2 linked regions of the Homo sapiens genome follow. The protein of the gene in region 1 interacts with the protein of each later gene in a pairwise test. Each region holds a gene or a part of one and is shown in the gene's direction. Other genes may lie near its edges.

Region 1 (7,020 bases):
AATTGTCAGATGTTTGTGCCTGATTCCTCAAATTTAACATGTCCAGACCATGATCTTATTTTTACCTTCCTGCTCCTAAACTAAACGATATAAAAAGCTTAGTTCTGGCCGGGCGCCGTGGTTCACGCCTGTAATCCTAGCACTTTGGGGTAACACCGTGAAACCCCGTCTGTATTAAAAATACAAAAAAATTAGCCGGGCAAGGTGGCGGCGCCTGTAGTCCCAGCTACTCGGGAGGCTGAGGCAGGAGAATGGCGTGAACCCAGGAGGCGGAGCTTGCAGTGAGCCGAGATCGTGCCACTGCACTCCAGCCTGGGCGACAGAGCAAGACTCCGTCTCAAAAAAAAAAAAAAAAAAAAAGCTCAGTTCTTCCTCTTGAAACATTATATTGGCTTAATCATTGCCTTGACTAATTGTTAGATTATTAGTTTAATCTCATGGTTCTGTAATTCCCACTCCTGATTGTGAGTTACTAAAAAAAATCATATGGAGAGGTGATTTTATTAAAACTGATTATTCAGTTGAGACCTAGGATTTTTAGTTTTATTCTCTTTATTATCTAGTGAATGAACTTATTTTAGAACTGATGCAAAGAAATGTCACTGACTTGTTAAGTAGAGTACACCTGTGGCTTCTTCAAGTGTGTTTGATAATGAGGTCATATAAGTGACTCTAAAATGGTTTGTTTACTGTGTGAAGGAAGGTAGGAAACAATGGGGAGATACGTGTTACCAGCACATGGCTTGTCTAAAACACTTATACTACCAATCTGAGTCTTTAAAAGTTACAGGTTGGGGGGGGAGGGGCAGTTAAAACAGTATTAATTAATGTGTTAACATATATTAGAGGGCCTGGATTGTCATTGATCTAATAGTGATAATTTGAATCACTTAAGTATCATTTATCCAAAATAAAATGGCATGTTAGTCACTTAAATTGTAGCTGTATGAGACCATATTCTTTTTTTTTTGTTTGTTTTCCAGAGACAGGTTCTTGCTCTGTCACCCAGGCTGGAGTGCAGTGGCACAATCATGGCTCACTGCAGCCTCAACCTCCTGGGCTCAAGCAATCCTGCCACCTCAGCAACTTGCCCCCCAGCCCCTGTATTCCACCCCCCCAAGGTTGCTGGGACTATAGGCATGTGCCAGGCGGCTGGGACTACAGGCATGTGCCAGGCAGCTGGTCTTGACCTCCTGACTGAGCTCAAGCAATCCTCCCACCTCAGCCTCCCAAAGTACGCTTTTTTCTTTTCTTTTTCTCTTTCCCAAGAATAGGATTTAAAAAGTCAATTCCCAAGAAAGGTCTTTATTTACCCAAGTGTTATAATTTCCAATTTGGATGTTTTTAGTCATTGGTTGAGGAAGTATCTCAGATAAATATAAATGTAAATATAAATAAATGTATATATTCATACCTGTAATTCATTTGGATATTTATAATAAAAATCAAAGCCTCATGGTTTCTTTAAATGAGATAGAGAGCTGTGCTTAGGTTTATCAAGAGCAATAAGTTTATGTGATTTTTCTCTCTCAACTACTAGAATAGGAATGGAGGCCATTTTAAACAAAATTTTAATATAATGAAATCCTCTTTACTTATAACCTAATTAGAAATATTAAGTGGCCAAGAGTGTATGGAAACTGGCCAGATTTCTGCATATTTTCTTCAGAATACTTCGAAACCTCTTTCACTGTTTCATAATGTTTATAGATTGTGCAATTCAGGTTTAGTAATACTGTAGATAGACAGATGTGTTAAAGAACAAAACAGAGATTACCAGGAAACTTAAGTGTTGATAGTATGGAGTATAAGTATGACATAATATTTTTTTAGAAGGATTACGTAAAAAGTTAATGGAAAAAGTGGTGTCTATCTCTCACTCAGGATACTTAAAGTCAGATTCTTAGGTAAAATATACTCTATTAATATGTTAAGCACATCTTACTTGGCTTTCCTTAGAATTGTCACCTCTGATGTGATCTTTTATAACTTTTCTTACTCAAAAGTCTGCTCACTAAAAAGATTCTTAGTTTGCACTACAATGGTTGTAAAACAAGAATCCTTTCTTTTTTTGTTTTTGTTTCTGTGATTAGATGCTTTAGGGCTTATATCCTTTGCCTTGCTAATAAGGTAAGTGCCCAACTGATGGGGCTGTGTAGAAAACTTTTTGGCTTGCATTGGTAAGCTTTCCCCATGTCATAGATGCTTACTATTAGAAAGCTATAGTTCCTGTGGTGAATGACTTCTCTTTGTATTACAGTTGACACTTTGGTCACTGTTGAATTTAGGCCTCAGTGATGGATGATAGTGTTTATTGCTTGTCTCCTTAAATAAAATAGAGAAGTTAGGTTTTGCTTTTCTATTTATTTTCCAAAGCTATGAGGAAGAGGCATTGAATCTAGTTTACTGTTTTATAGGTGGGCTGTGTGAATTTAATTTTTGCCTTGAATTTTGTGACCTCAGAAGAATGGCAGAATATCTGACAAGCTTCAGTCCTGTGTCCTTAGTTCCAGTCTTCTATATACTAAACCTAGGAATGCTGAGCAACACTGAATGGCATAGGATACCACTGGGGAGGGGGCAAAGGGTCTCTTTGAAGGTGAGATTAATTTATCCCGAAGACAGGAGGTAGAGTTGGATGGGTAAGTTTTAAAGGGTTGAAGCAATAGAGGTTGCAAGGTAAGGTATGAGACCTTTGAACAAACAGGAATCAACTAAAGGGTGGAAAAGATAAGGCCCTTGCTTTTTACTCATTGGAAATGTTCCTTGAAGCCTATTATGTATATAACACTTAATCCTGTAGAGTGTCTCAAAGAAGCAGAGGATAGTTTCTGTAAAACATTTAATCATCTGGTTAAAGTGAAACTGGACAGAAGCATTATCAGGGCTTAGGGGAAGAGTGCTATCTTTACAATTCCATTAAGAGTAAAAATATCTTGCTATGTTTTGTTAAATATATATTTTTCTGTTAGAAAAAAACCCACTTTAAAAAATCACCTGTTTTGATGAAAATGCTTCTGTGAAAACCTGAAGAGAGTTGGTGCCTCTTCTTATGGTTGAAGATCCCTACTTTTTAATGTAAGCTTACAAACATGAAAACATGTTTTGCCCCTTCTCTGAGTTGAGCTGGTCACTAGAAGGCAAATCCATGGACAGACAGTCCCATTGTTTGAAAGCTGGTTTTGTGGTAAGTGGTAAGTTGGTGGAGGTAGGCATGATTCTTCCATTACAGGCTGGTATGTAACTTTTTAAACACTGGTGCTTTGTACATAGTAGGTATTCAGTGTCTGAATTATTTTTTGAGTGTCGTTTTTTAAAAAAGTATCCTTTTTTAATGCAAAGAATGCATTTGTGTTTTCTTTGCCCCAGTTTGTCTGTGATATCAACTGGAGCAATAGTAGCTTATACTTCATTTCACTGTAATTTTTTTTAATTGACCTCTGATTCTCTCTGGCAAATAATTGTGATATGGTTCGAGGGATGTTTGTTTAAGACAATGGATGAGATTGAGTTGTAAGTAATTTCTTGTTGGTACTAGTTCATATTTTTATGGTTAAATATAGACCTAATGGCTGGTCAAGGACAAAAGAGCTTCACCTTTAACCTCTAAAAATCATGAGTTCTTTTATTTTAATGGCCTGTGTATTAGTCCATTCTCATGCTGCTATAAAGAACTACCTGAGACTGGGTAATTTATAAGAGCTGTGCAAAGCCATAGAGACATGTAATCATATGAAATTTTGAGAGATATGAAGTACTGGAAAAAGTACAATATATGAAAAGAAAAGATGGGATGGAGGTAGGCTGTGGATGGATTGCAAAGTACCTTCTGTGCAGGTCCAGGAAAATATAGACTTATCCTGTAGGTAATGGGCAACCCTTCAGACATTTTAAGGAAGGTAGTCATTTGAGAAAAAAGCACTTTGGAGTGGCTCAGAATCAAACTTACTTACTTACTAGCTGTATACCCTTGGACTTGGTGCTTAACATTTCTGAACTTCAGTTTTTACATCTATGAAATGGGGATAATTTGGACTGAGAATCCCCTGGATTGTGAGTGACTTAATCACTCAGCAAACATTATTGATTGAGTACCTGTTATACGTAATATCCAGATAAATTCTACAGGGAAGGGAAATATAGTAGGATGAACCTACAAAGGTAAGAAAAGCTAGATGTTGGTACACAACCCTTCCAAAACTTAGCACATTTTCCTCTCACACCTATTCTTACTCTTGTGTTGTCTGTCATTATAGTGGTAACCTAAGAGAGACGCCTGGGAATCCTTATTATAACTTCTTTATCTCCAACCAGTTATCAAATCCAACCTGTTTTCCTTTTAAATATTCTTTGACTACATCTTCTTGTCTCTATCCCTGTTGCCAAAGCCTTGGATTGGGCCCTTACCTCTCATCTGGACTCTGCAGTAGTTCACTTTTCCTCTTCTAATTCATTTCTTTTTCATCAGAAAGTTCTCATTTTAAATAATACCAGCCATGCACCGAGCCCTTGCTAACTGTCAAATGACTACTGAAGCTCTGCATTATGTCAGGTTATTACAGTAAGCTTTTGGTTTGTGACTGCCAGGCCAGGAGTTGAGGCTTACCCTCTCTTTTGTTGGCTACAAGCAAAGTATGTCAACTGCAGCCTCCCCATGCCTTTCCTCACTAGCTGCCTCAGATCTGCTTCCTTGTTCTTTGTTGTGCTGTCTTCTGATGGATGCTTTGGTCGTTCTGTTCATCTACTGTTTGCTGAAACCCAAAGCTTTTTTGTACTTCTATTAACAGTTAACCAGTTCACCCTAAGGAGATTGTACGCAGACCAGCCTCCCACATTTGTGTTAGGGGTATGTTACTACTCATATGAGATTTGAAGCCTTCTTTTTCCCCAAAAAATGGTCGATCTCAGATTTTAATAAGGTGCCCCTTTTCTCAACCCCCATAGAGGTACCTTTTATATTCACTGTGAAACTGTCATTCAAATGAATCTACTCCTGGTCTTTAACTTTTTTTGCACTTCTACCCCAATAAGAGGCTGTCTTGCAGTGGGGAGGAATGCATTTTTTGTGTTTTCTTGTTCTTCCCATTTTATCCTCTTTTTGCTTATTTGGAATCTGACTATCCATGAATAAGATGGACTTTGAGATCTACTTGTAAGTACACAGGCTGAAGTTGAATATCTGTATCCCAGTACTTACCACCATGCTTTGTGCATGTTAGGTCACTTTTGTCACACATAGCTTTACCATCACACAGGTAGTAAATTTCCTGTGCTGCCTTTCTTCTGTGCATGTGACAATTGGTAGTTGAGAAGAGCATGAACTCACCTATTTGTTATTTTGTTTTTGGTGCTCTAGGTCAGGATGGCTAACTGGTTGGCTCCCCACATGGTGCCCTACGTCTATATCACACCTTAAAGAAGCTGAAGAGAAGATGTTAAAATGTAAGGCTTTCTTCTTGTAAGTTAAATGAGCTGTGTACTAAGATAGGTCCAATATATCTCATTGCCCTGAAACTGGAGGTAAGATTCTGTGGTGTGTTCATTGTTGGCAAAATAACTTTTTTCCTTTTCCTTGTCATTAGAAAGTACAGAAATGAATGTCGGGGGCTGGCAGGTAGGAGTTCTAAAACTTTTTGGTCTTGGGCCCCTGTTATACTCTTAAATTAGTAAGGACCCCAAGGAGATTTGTTTATGGGCTTATTATCAATATTTATCATTTCTAATACAATTAGAAATTAAAATTGAATAATCAAAAATGTTAATTTATTAATTTCTTTAAAAATAATAGTAAACCCATTACAGATTAAAATAAATAAAATTTGTACCAAAAAAAGAAAAAAAATACTTTCCAAACATTGTTTACATGTTTACAAATGTCTTTAATGTCTAGCTTGACATAAGGTTGCTGCTTCTGCTTTCAGTCTGATGGGTAATCACATATGTGACTTCTGGAAGACTACTTTATACCTATTAGAGAATGAGAGTGAAAAATAGAAAGTCTTAGTATTATGATGAAAATAGTTTTGACTTCCTGGATCTCCTCGAAGAGTCTCAGGGACACCCCCCCTGACTCTGCTTGAGACTATGCTTTGAGAACAGATTCTAGGTGTTTCAGAGCAAGCAGCCTTGTATAGTGGAAGTACTAGACTGGACCCAGGTAACTTGGTCTAGGCCCAGATCTGCCACTAGGTGGTTACAAGATCTTGGACAAGTCACTTTGCTCAGCTTCTCATTTCTTATAAAATGAAGGGGTAGGATTCTTATAAAATGAATGGGTCCATAGAATTCCTTCTAGTTCTAGCATTCTAGGATTCTATATTTATAGTGGTGTGGAAGCCCCTTTTTTTTCCTTCTTATGAGCACTAAAATTTACCCAAACTTGTACCATCAGGGCATTCCAAGGTATCTGTGGGTGTAGTTCTAAGTAGTGGTACTTATTGTGCAATTTTGTTCTGCTGATTCTACTTAAAGGAGTGGATTAGGTAGTACCATTCATATTCATGTGTTATTTTTGTATGTAGGTGCAGATGTTTGTACATGCCTGTTTTTCATTCTCTTTACCACTAATGAATTTGTTTGTGCATTTGAATGATTCAGGAGTAAGTGACCATAACTGGATATATCCTTAGGAAGGGATAATTAGCCATCTTTCATGAATTTTTTTTTTTTTTTGAGATGGAGCCTTGCTCTGTTACCCAAGCTGGAGTGCAGTGGCACAATCTCAGCTCACTGCAACCTCTGCCTCCTGGGTTCAAGCAATTCTCCTGCCTCAGCCTCCCAAGTAGCTGGGATTACAGGCACCTGCCACCATACCCAGCTAATTTTTGTATTTTTAGTAGAGATGGGGTTTCGCCATGTTGACCAGGCTAGTCTTGAACTCCTGACCTCAGGTGATCCACCTGCCTCGGCCTCCCAAAGTGCTGGGATTACAGGCATGAGCTACCACGCCCAGTTATTACATGGATTTTTAACATGATAATGAACTTCTATTCCATATACTTGGGTAAACTTGCTCTCTAC
Region 2 (7,681 bases), on another chromosome or scaffold:
AATCAATTTAGAAGTTTATTTTGCCAAGGGTAAGGACACACACATGGGAGACAGGTCTGTGCCTTTCTCCAAAGATGATTTTGAGGGTTTCAATATCTAAAGGGGAAAGGAGTGGATACTGGGGAGAGGAGAAATTGTTAAGGGGTGTGGGCCAGTAAGAGGCAAATGGTTGCATTCCTTTGAGTCTTTGATTAGCCATTGACATGTGAGATGGGGGGGTAGAGGAATAGTCACGCATTCATCTAGCTCAGTGAATCTGCATTTTTAAATAAGATAAAATAAACATAGGCCAGAGGGAGCAATCAAATATTAATTTGTCTCAGGTGAGCAGAGGGATGCTATTGTGTTCTGTCCTATGTCCCACATCTGTGAATATAAGCTATCAATTTACATTGTGAGGATGAAATTCAACAGAACTTTTTAGGGTAAAGATCTTGGGGCCCACAAGGAATTTCCTAGTGGGCAAATTATGAGGGAGGTATGTAGCTTTTTTGTTTTGTTTTCTTTTGAGACAGAGTCTCACTCTGTTATCCAGGCTGGAGTGCAGTGTCTCCATTATAGCGGTCCCCAACTGCAGCCTTGACCACCCAGGCTCAAATGATCCTTCCACCTCAGCCCAGCAAGTAGGACTACAGGCGCATGCCACCACACCCGGCTAACTTTTGTATTTTCTGTAGAGACGGGATTTCACCATGTTGCCCAGGCTGGTCTCAAACTCCTGGGTTCAAGTGATCGCCTGCCTCAGCCTCCCAAAGGGCTGAGATTACAGGCATGAACCACTGCGCCTGGCTTATGTAGCTTATCTTTGAATAGGAGGTTTGTGTGACACAGTCCCCAGCTTGACTTTTCCCTTTGGTTCAGTGATTTTGGGGTCCCAAGATTTATTTTCCTTTCACACAGGTAAAGTCCGGAGAAGAAGCTGGTGAGAAAGAGACAGGAGCCAGATGCTGAATGACGGTAAATCGAATCCTGGAGGGAACCAAACAAAACCCTGAAAACCTCCAGGAATCTCAGGTTGGCCAAATCCTTGGTAATGTCCTGCCACTCCCCAGGACTGCCACACTGTACACACCCTATCTAATGGCAACCTACTGCAGGGGCCAAGGAAAAACGTCTCCTTTGTCCTCTGGAGGTTCACTGAAAAATCAACTGGCGGAAAGCAAATTAACAGGTCAAAAGATATACATGTATTATTATAAAAAGACGTAAATGTATTATTGGGCATGTGGGGGAACCACAGAGTAATTACTCCACCTCTCAGTGGGCTCAGAAGCTTATATACCCCTCCTGAGGTTACAGAAAGTTTGGGGGCTCAGAGAATGGTGGTAAATCAGGATTTAGTGGCAAGACAGAAATGGAAACTTGGCTAGCAAAAGTCATTTCATTATGTAGATTGGGGTCCCCAAACTTTGGGCCATTTACACTGTGGCCATTTACATTCCTGTTAGGAATAGGGCCGCACAGCAAGAGGTGAGTGGCGGGTGAGTGAGCAATACCGCCTGAGCTCTGCCTCTTGTCAGGTCAGCAGCTGGTATTAGGTTCTCTTAGGAGCAAGAACGCCGCTGTGAACTGCACATGCAAGGGATCTAGGTTGCGGCTCCTTATGAGAATCTAATGCCGATGATTTAAGGTGGAACAGTTTCATCCTGAAAACCATCCCCCTGCCCTGGTCCATGGAAAAATTGTCTTCCATGAAACCTATCCCTGGTGCCAAAAAGGTTGGGGACCGCTCATGTAGATGAAACCTCACAGGTAGTAGCCATTGGAAAGAATAGATGGTTGATGTTTCTTTCAGACCTTTAAAGGTGTCAGACTGTCCATTAACCTTTCCTATATCTGGACGAGGGAAAACCTCAGAGAGCACCTGGCTGCATCAATGCAGATTTTCTCTGTATATTGCAAGCCTCTCTCACACACACACACACACACACACACACACACACACACACACACACACACACCAAACAGCTTCGTAGGACTACTTCCGCCTGCAGGTCCTCTGAACAGCCATATCTCAAAATATGTGAAAGAAGTATATTTTGGGGTAAAATTTTTTGGTTTCCTTCACTACACATCTCACCTTGGGTGTTATTCTTGCCACTGGTTTCATGTTCTCAGACTCACGAAGCTGAAAAACAGTTGGGGATGCAGAATTTGATGTGCTTCATCCTTTGTGGGCTTGAAGAGTCTCTTGTTCCCAAAATTATTCCCTGGGGCCCTCTGCTTCACAGGCAAATAAAAGCAAAAAGAAGCTTGCTCAGCCTTAAGTGAGGAAATGACTCACAGGTTTAAAACAAAAAAGGAAAAGATGGAGGCATTTTGTAGGTGAAAGGGCGAGAGTCTTCTGATGCAAAGTAAGAGGTCATTAGAGCAGGGATGGATTATCAATAAGCAGAGCAAACATTTGCTTAGGGAACAAACAGCGCCGGAACACGAAAAAGAAAAGAAAAACATAATAATTTAATTACTTAAAACACTGAAGATGGCAACATAGGAAAAAACCCAAACCAGAACATTTTTGGACTTCATAACATTTTATGGTTCAGTATTTATGGCTTAGTATTTTATTTTGAATTACATGTGGGGAGGAGGGGTAAAAATACTTTAATTTTTCTTGCTAAGTAAGTACTATTATATATTCAGGTATAATGGGATAAGGGATACCATTTTAATGGGTCCGTTTGGAGCTTTAAATATGATCAACAGTATCTGTGTGCATGCAAGATTGGTTAAGAAACTGGGTTAGACCGAGTGCGGTGGCTCACGCCTGTAATCCCAGCACTTTGGGAGGCCAAGGCGGGCGGATCACGAGGTCAAGCGATCGAGACCATCCTGGCCAACATGGTGAAACCCCGTCTCTACTAAAAATACAAAAATTAGCTGGGCGTGGTGGCCCGCGCTTGTAGTCCCAGCTACTCGGGAGGCTGAGGCAAGAGAATCACTTGAACCCGGGAGGCTGGGGTTGCAGTGAGCCAAGATCGCGCCACTGCACTCCAGCCTGGCGACAGAGCGAGACTCCGTCTCAAAAAACAACAACAACAACAACAACAACAGAAAATGAAAACAAATTGGGGTAAAAGTCTCTGAGAGCTTCCTACAGTTACAACTCCAAAGCTTCACAAAGCCAGTCCCTCCTGGCTGGAGCCAGGGACTCCAACGCTGTGGGCCTCTCAGGGGGCGGACCCGCGGCGCCAGCGCCTGCTCCCTTCCCACCTCCCAACCCTCCTCTCTGCTGTATCCTCCCTGCGAGCTGTGTCGGGGGCCGGGGGGGGGGAGTGGGGGCCGAGGCCGGACAGCTTCATCTGGAAATCCCCCGCCACTCACGGGGGAAGAAGTCCCACGAGCCCTATCTGGCCTCGGGCGCTGGCGCAACTTGTCTGCTCAAATAATCTCGTTCCAAATCTGTGCGTTTTACACAAGAAACAAACAAACAAAACAACAACAACAAAAAAACACAACTGGGACTCAGATGACGTTTTAAGTTGTCTTTGAAAAACAATGCATAACCCTGCACGTATAAAGTTGCCTATGTCACATAACCCTAGGCAGCTGTCATTCTGGAGTGATCTGGAGTTAAGTTTTTTGTTTTCTTTTTCTTTTTTCTTTTCTTTTTTTTTTTTTAGACAGGGTCTCAGTCACTCAGGCTGGGGTGCAGTGGTACAGTGGCGCGATCTCGACTCATTGCAGCCTCGACCACCTGGGCTCAAAAGATTCTTTCACCTCAGCCACCCACCCGCCTGCCCCCAACCCCGCTAAACAGCCGGGACTAGCTGGGACTACAGGCGCGCGCCACCACGCTGGGCTGCTTTCTTTGTATTTTGAGAGAGACGGGGTTTCGCCATGTTGGCCAGGCTGGTGATTCGCTCGCCTCGGCCTCCCAAAGTGCTAGGATTACAGGCGTGAGCCACCGCGCCCAGCCGCCACAAAACTTTTAAAAGTTATTACTTCGCTAAAAATAACAGCGTAGAAGCCATTGTGCAGCGCCACGCGATCTCGGCTCACTGCAGCCTCGACCTCCCAGGCTCAAGCGATCCTCCCATCTTAGCCTCGCAGGTAGCTGGGGCCACAGGCGCACGACACCACGCTGGGCTATTTTTTAAAATAAAATAAAAATCTTCGCCAGGCTGGTCTCGAACTCCTAGGCTCGACAGATCCTCTCGCCTCAGCATCCCAAAGTGTTGTGATTACAGGCGTGAGCCACCGCTTCCATTTTTAGAGTTCTATTCTGAGGACTAACGCCGTTCAACAAGTTGGTGTGAATTTGTTTGCATTTTTCAAAACCCCAAAGCCGGCCTGGGCGCCATCCCCATTTGCCCCGGGCCTCTCAGGACCCCGACCACAGGCAGGACCCCGACCACAGGCAGCGCCCCGACTCCAGGCAGCGCCCCGACTCCAGGCAGGGCTACCTCCAACTCCCAGCCTCCCCAGGCCGGGCCCCCGCCCGGCTCCCGACAGGCTCCTCTCCCCGTGGCGGGGCCCCTCGCCCAGGCAGCACACCCTCTCAACCCGACCGGGCCCCCACCACTCTAGGAGGGCCGGCGTTGGGGGAGGGCGCCGGGACGTGCCCGAGGGTGACACTCGGGCTTGGGACAGGGCGTGCTGCCGCGGGTCACGTGCTGCGGAGGCTTGGGGAGGGGCGGCGAGGCGGGGTTTATAGCCCGGGCGCCCGCGGGCCCCACGCTTTGACCGGGTCGTGGCAGCCGGAGTCGTCTTCGGGACGCGCCTGCTCTTCGCCTTTCGCTGCAGTCCGTCGGTGAGTGCGCGCCCAGTGGGTGCCCCAGCGAACCGGTCCCGGGCCCCCAGCGGCGCCCAGTTGGGGTGGGGGGCTCCCCGGGGCCTTGGGACCGCTGCTCTGCTCCCCGCGGGGCTCAAAGGTGGACGGGACGCGGGGGTGATGGTCCGAGACCCCCCGCTCGCCTCGCGGCTTCCAGGTCCTGGCTGGGTAGGGGCGGTCTGCTGAACCCGCGCTTTCGACCCTTGCCTTTGTGCGTTGAGGCTTCTTTCCTGCCAACAGATTTAGGGCGATTGCTATCGAATGTCCCTTGGCCTGCTTGGGTGGTTGTGGGAAAACAATATTTGTCGAAGGGACATTATCGAAAGGGAAACGCGTTAGAAAACCGCATTTTTTTTTTGACGGAGTCTCGCTCTGTCGCCCAGGCTGGAGTGCAGTGACGCCATCTAGGCTCACTGCAACCTCCGCCTCCCGGGTTCAAGCGATTCTCCTGCCTCAGCCTCCAGAGCAGCTGGGATAACAGGCGCCCGCCACCACGCCCGGCTAATTTTTGTATTTTTAGAAGAGACGGGGTTTCACCACGTTGGTCAGGCTGGTCTTGAACTCCTGACATCAAGCAGTCCACCCCCCTCGGCCTCCCAAAGTGCTGGGATTACAGGCGTGAGCCACCGCGTCCGGCTTGGCTAGCATTTTTGTTAACAGATACTCGGAGAAACAAGAGAAGTATGTCAACAACTTTACTTCTCCCTCCTGAGTATTGCAAGTTTACACATAAGCTCTGAAACTTTGCCTCAAAAGAGGGAGTGGGGTTGTGTGGGTGTGGGTCTTTCAGGAGGGGGACCTGGAGAGCTGGAGAGAGGAAAGAAGTGCAGAAGACTACAGGGAGCTCACCCTGCATTTTTCTCTACTTGTAATCAGCATTTGCTTGGGTTGGGGAATGAATTTGGGAGAGTCTTATCCCGGTGTTCTGAAATAAGTCTCTTTTCTGCAGATTTCTTTCTCCAGGAAGAAAAATGGCATCCGTTGCAGTTGATCCACAACCGGTATGAATTTTGAGTAGCCTTTGTCTACTTTCTCTCCTTTTGTGTTTTGAGAGATTAATAAGCATACCCTCCCTACTTTGATTGCAGAGTGTGGTGACTCGGGTGGTCAACCTGCCCTTGGTGAGCTCCACGTATGACCTCATGTCCTCAGCCTATCTCAGTACAAAGGACCAGTATCCCTACCTGAAGTCTGTGTGTGAGATGGCAGAGAACGGTGTGAAGACCATCACCTCCGTGGCCATGACCAGTGCTCTGCCCATCATCCAGAAGCTAGAGCCGCAAAGTGAGTTCTGATTTTTCAAGATGCAAGTCAAGGGACTGGTCAGTGGCGAGCCCCTGAGCTCACAGCAGTAACATCTGGAACTCCTCAGCCCTTCCTGGGGCATACACTGCCTTTACCTAGAAACTTTCAGGTGACCCTCATTACCGTAAGAGGACTGTTTCTTTTCTTTTCTTTCCTTTTTTTTTTTTTTTGAGATGGAGTCTCACTCTATCACTCAGGCTGGAGTTCAGTGGCGCAGTCTTGGCTCACTGCAACCTCTGCCTGCTGGGTTCAAGTGATTCTCCTGCCTCAGCCTCCCGAGTAGCTGGGACTACAGGCTCCCACCACCATGCCCAGCTAATTTTTGTATTTTTAGTAGAGACGCGGTTTCACAATATTGGCCAGGCTTAACTCCTGACTTTGTGATCCACCCACCTCTGCCTCCCAAAGTGCTGGGATTACAGGCGTGAGCCACCGCGCCTGTCCACAGAAGGCCTGTTTCATAGCTTTGGCAGATGTTTATGATCCTTTAATTAAAAATCCCCCAGAGGATGGGCACGGTGGCCTGCACCTGTAATCCTAGCACTTTGGGAGGTCTAGATGGGAGGATCGCTTGAGGCCTGGAATTTGAGACTGCTCACTGCAGTCTCTGCCTCTCGGGCTCAGGTGATTGTCCTGCCTCAGCTCCCTGAGTAGTTGGGATTACAGGCATACACCACCATGCCCAGCTAATTTTGTATTTTTAGTAGAGACAGGGTTTTGCCATGTTGGCCAGGCTGGTCAGGAACTCCTGACCCCAGGTGATCCGCCCGCCTCGGCCTCCCAAAGTGCTAGGACTACAGGTGTGAGCCACCATGCCTGGCCATGAATGAGTTTTAGAAATGGATAGTGGTGATGGTTGTATAATGTTGTAAATGGACTTAATGCCACTGAATTGCACAGTTAAAAATGGTTGAAATGGTGAAATTTGTTATGTATATTTTACCGAAATAAAGAATAGAAATGTCATACTCCATGAGAAATCTCATACTCTCATACTTAGTAGTCACTCCCCATTTCCTAACAACCACCCTGAGGCAGCTACTCATCTACTTTGTCTTTATAGATTTGCCTATGCTGGATATTTCTTATAAATGAAATCATAAAATGTGTGGGTTTTTTTGTGATTGGCTTCTTTCGTTAAGCATAATGTTTTCAAAGTTAATCTGTCTTGTCACATCATATCAGTACTTCATCTCTTTTTATTGTTGAATAGTAATTTACTGTCTAGACAGACAATATTTATTCATTCTTCAACTGATGGATGTTTGGGTTCGTTCTACTTTTGGAGATTATGTATAATGCTTCTGTGAACATTTGTATACAAGTTTTTGTGTGGACATGTTTTCAGGTTTTTTTGGTATATACCCAGGAGTGGAATTGCTGGGTTATATAATAACTGTTTAAGCTTTTGAGGAGCTGCCAGACTGTTTTCCAAATCAGCTGTACCATTTTACATTCCCACCAACACTGTATGGAGGCTCCAATTTCTCCACAACATGAACTGCTTTTGAATAAAGATTTAAATCATTCTTTCAAATGGTTAAGCCAGGGACTTTTAGGATTATAAGGAGCCTTTAGAGACCAGCCATTCCAACTCTGCTA

The links. Proteins that work in one complex are often made in the same cells at the same time.
Region 2: the proteins of ABHD5 (region 1) and PLIN2 interact in binary tests that used the Homo sapiens proteins (3 or more experiments, as listed by UniProt).

The regions. Positions count from the first base shown.
Region 1 is NC_000003.12:43,693,920-43,700,939, forward strand, and holds part of ABHD5 (1-acylglycerol-3-phosphate O-acyltransferase ABHD5), read left to right. Parts: intron 1-5,356; coding exon 5,357-5,442; intron 5,443-7,020. UniProt on the Homo sapiens protein: Coenzyme A-dependent lysophosphatidic acid acyltransferase that catalyzes the transfer of an acyl group on a lysophosphatidic acid.
Region 2 is NC_000009.12:19,124,491-19,132,171, reverse strand, and holds the start of PLIN2 (perilipin-2), read left to right. Parts: upstream 1-4,679; 5' UTR 4,680-4,753; intron 4,754-5,723; 5' UTR 5,724-5,745; coding exon 5,746-5,775; exon of another isoform or gene 5,776-5,862; coding exon 5,863-6,058; intron 6,059-7,681. UniProt on the Homo sapiens protein: Structural component of lipid droplets, which is required for the formation and maintenance of lipid storage droplets.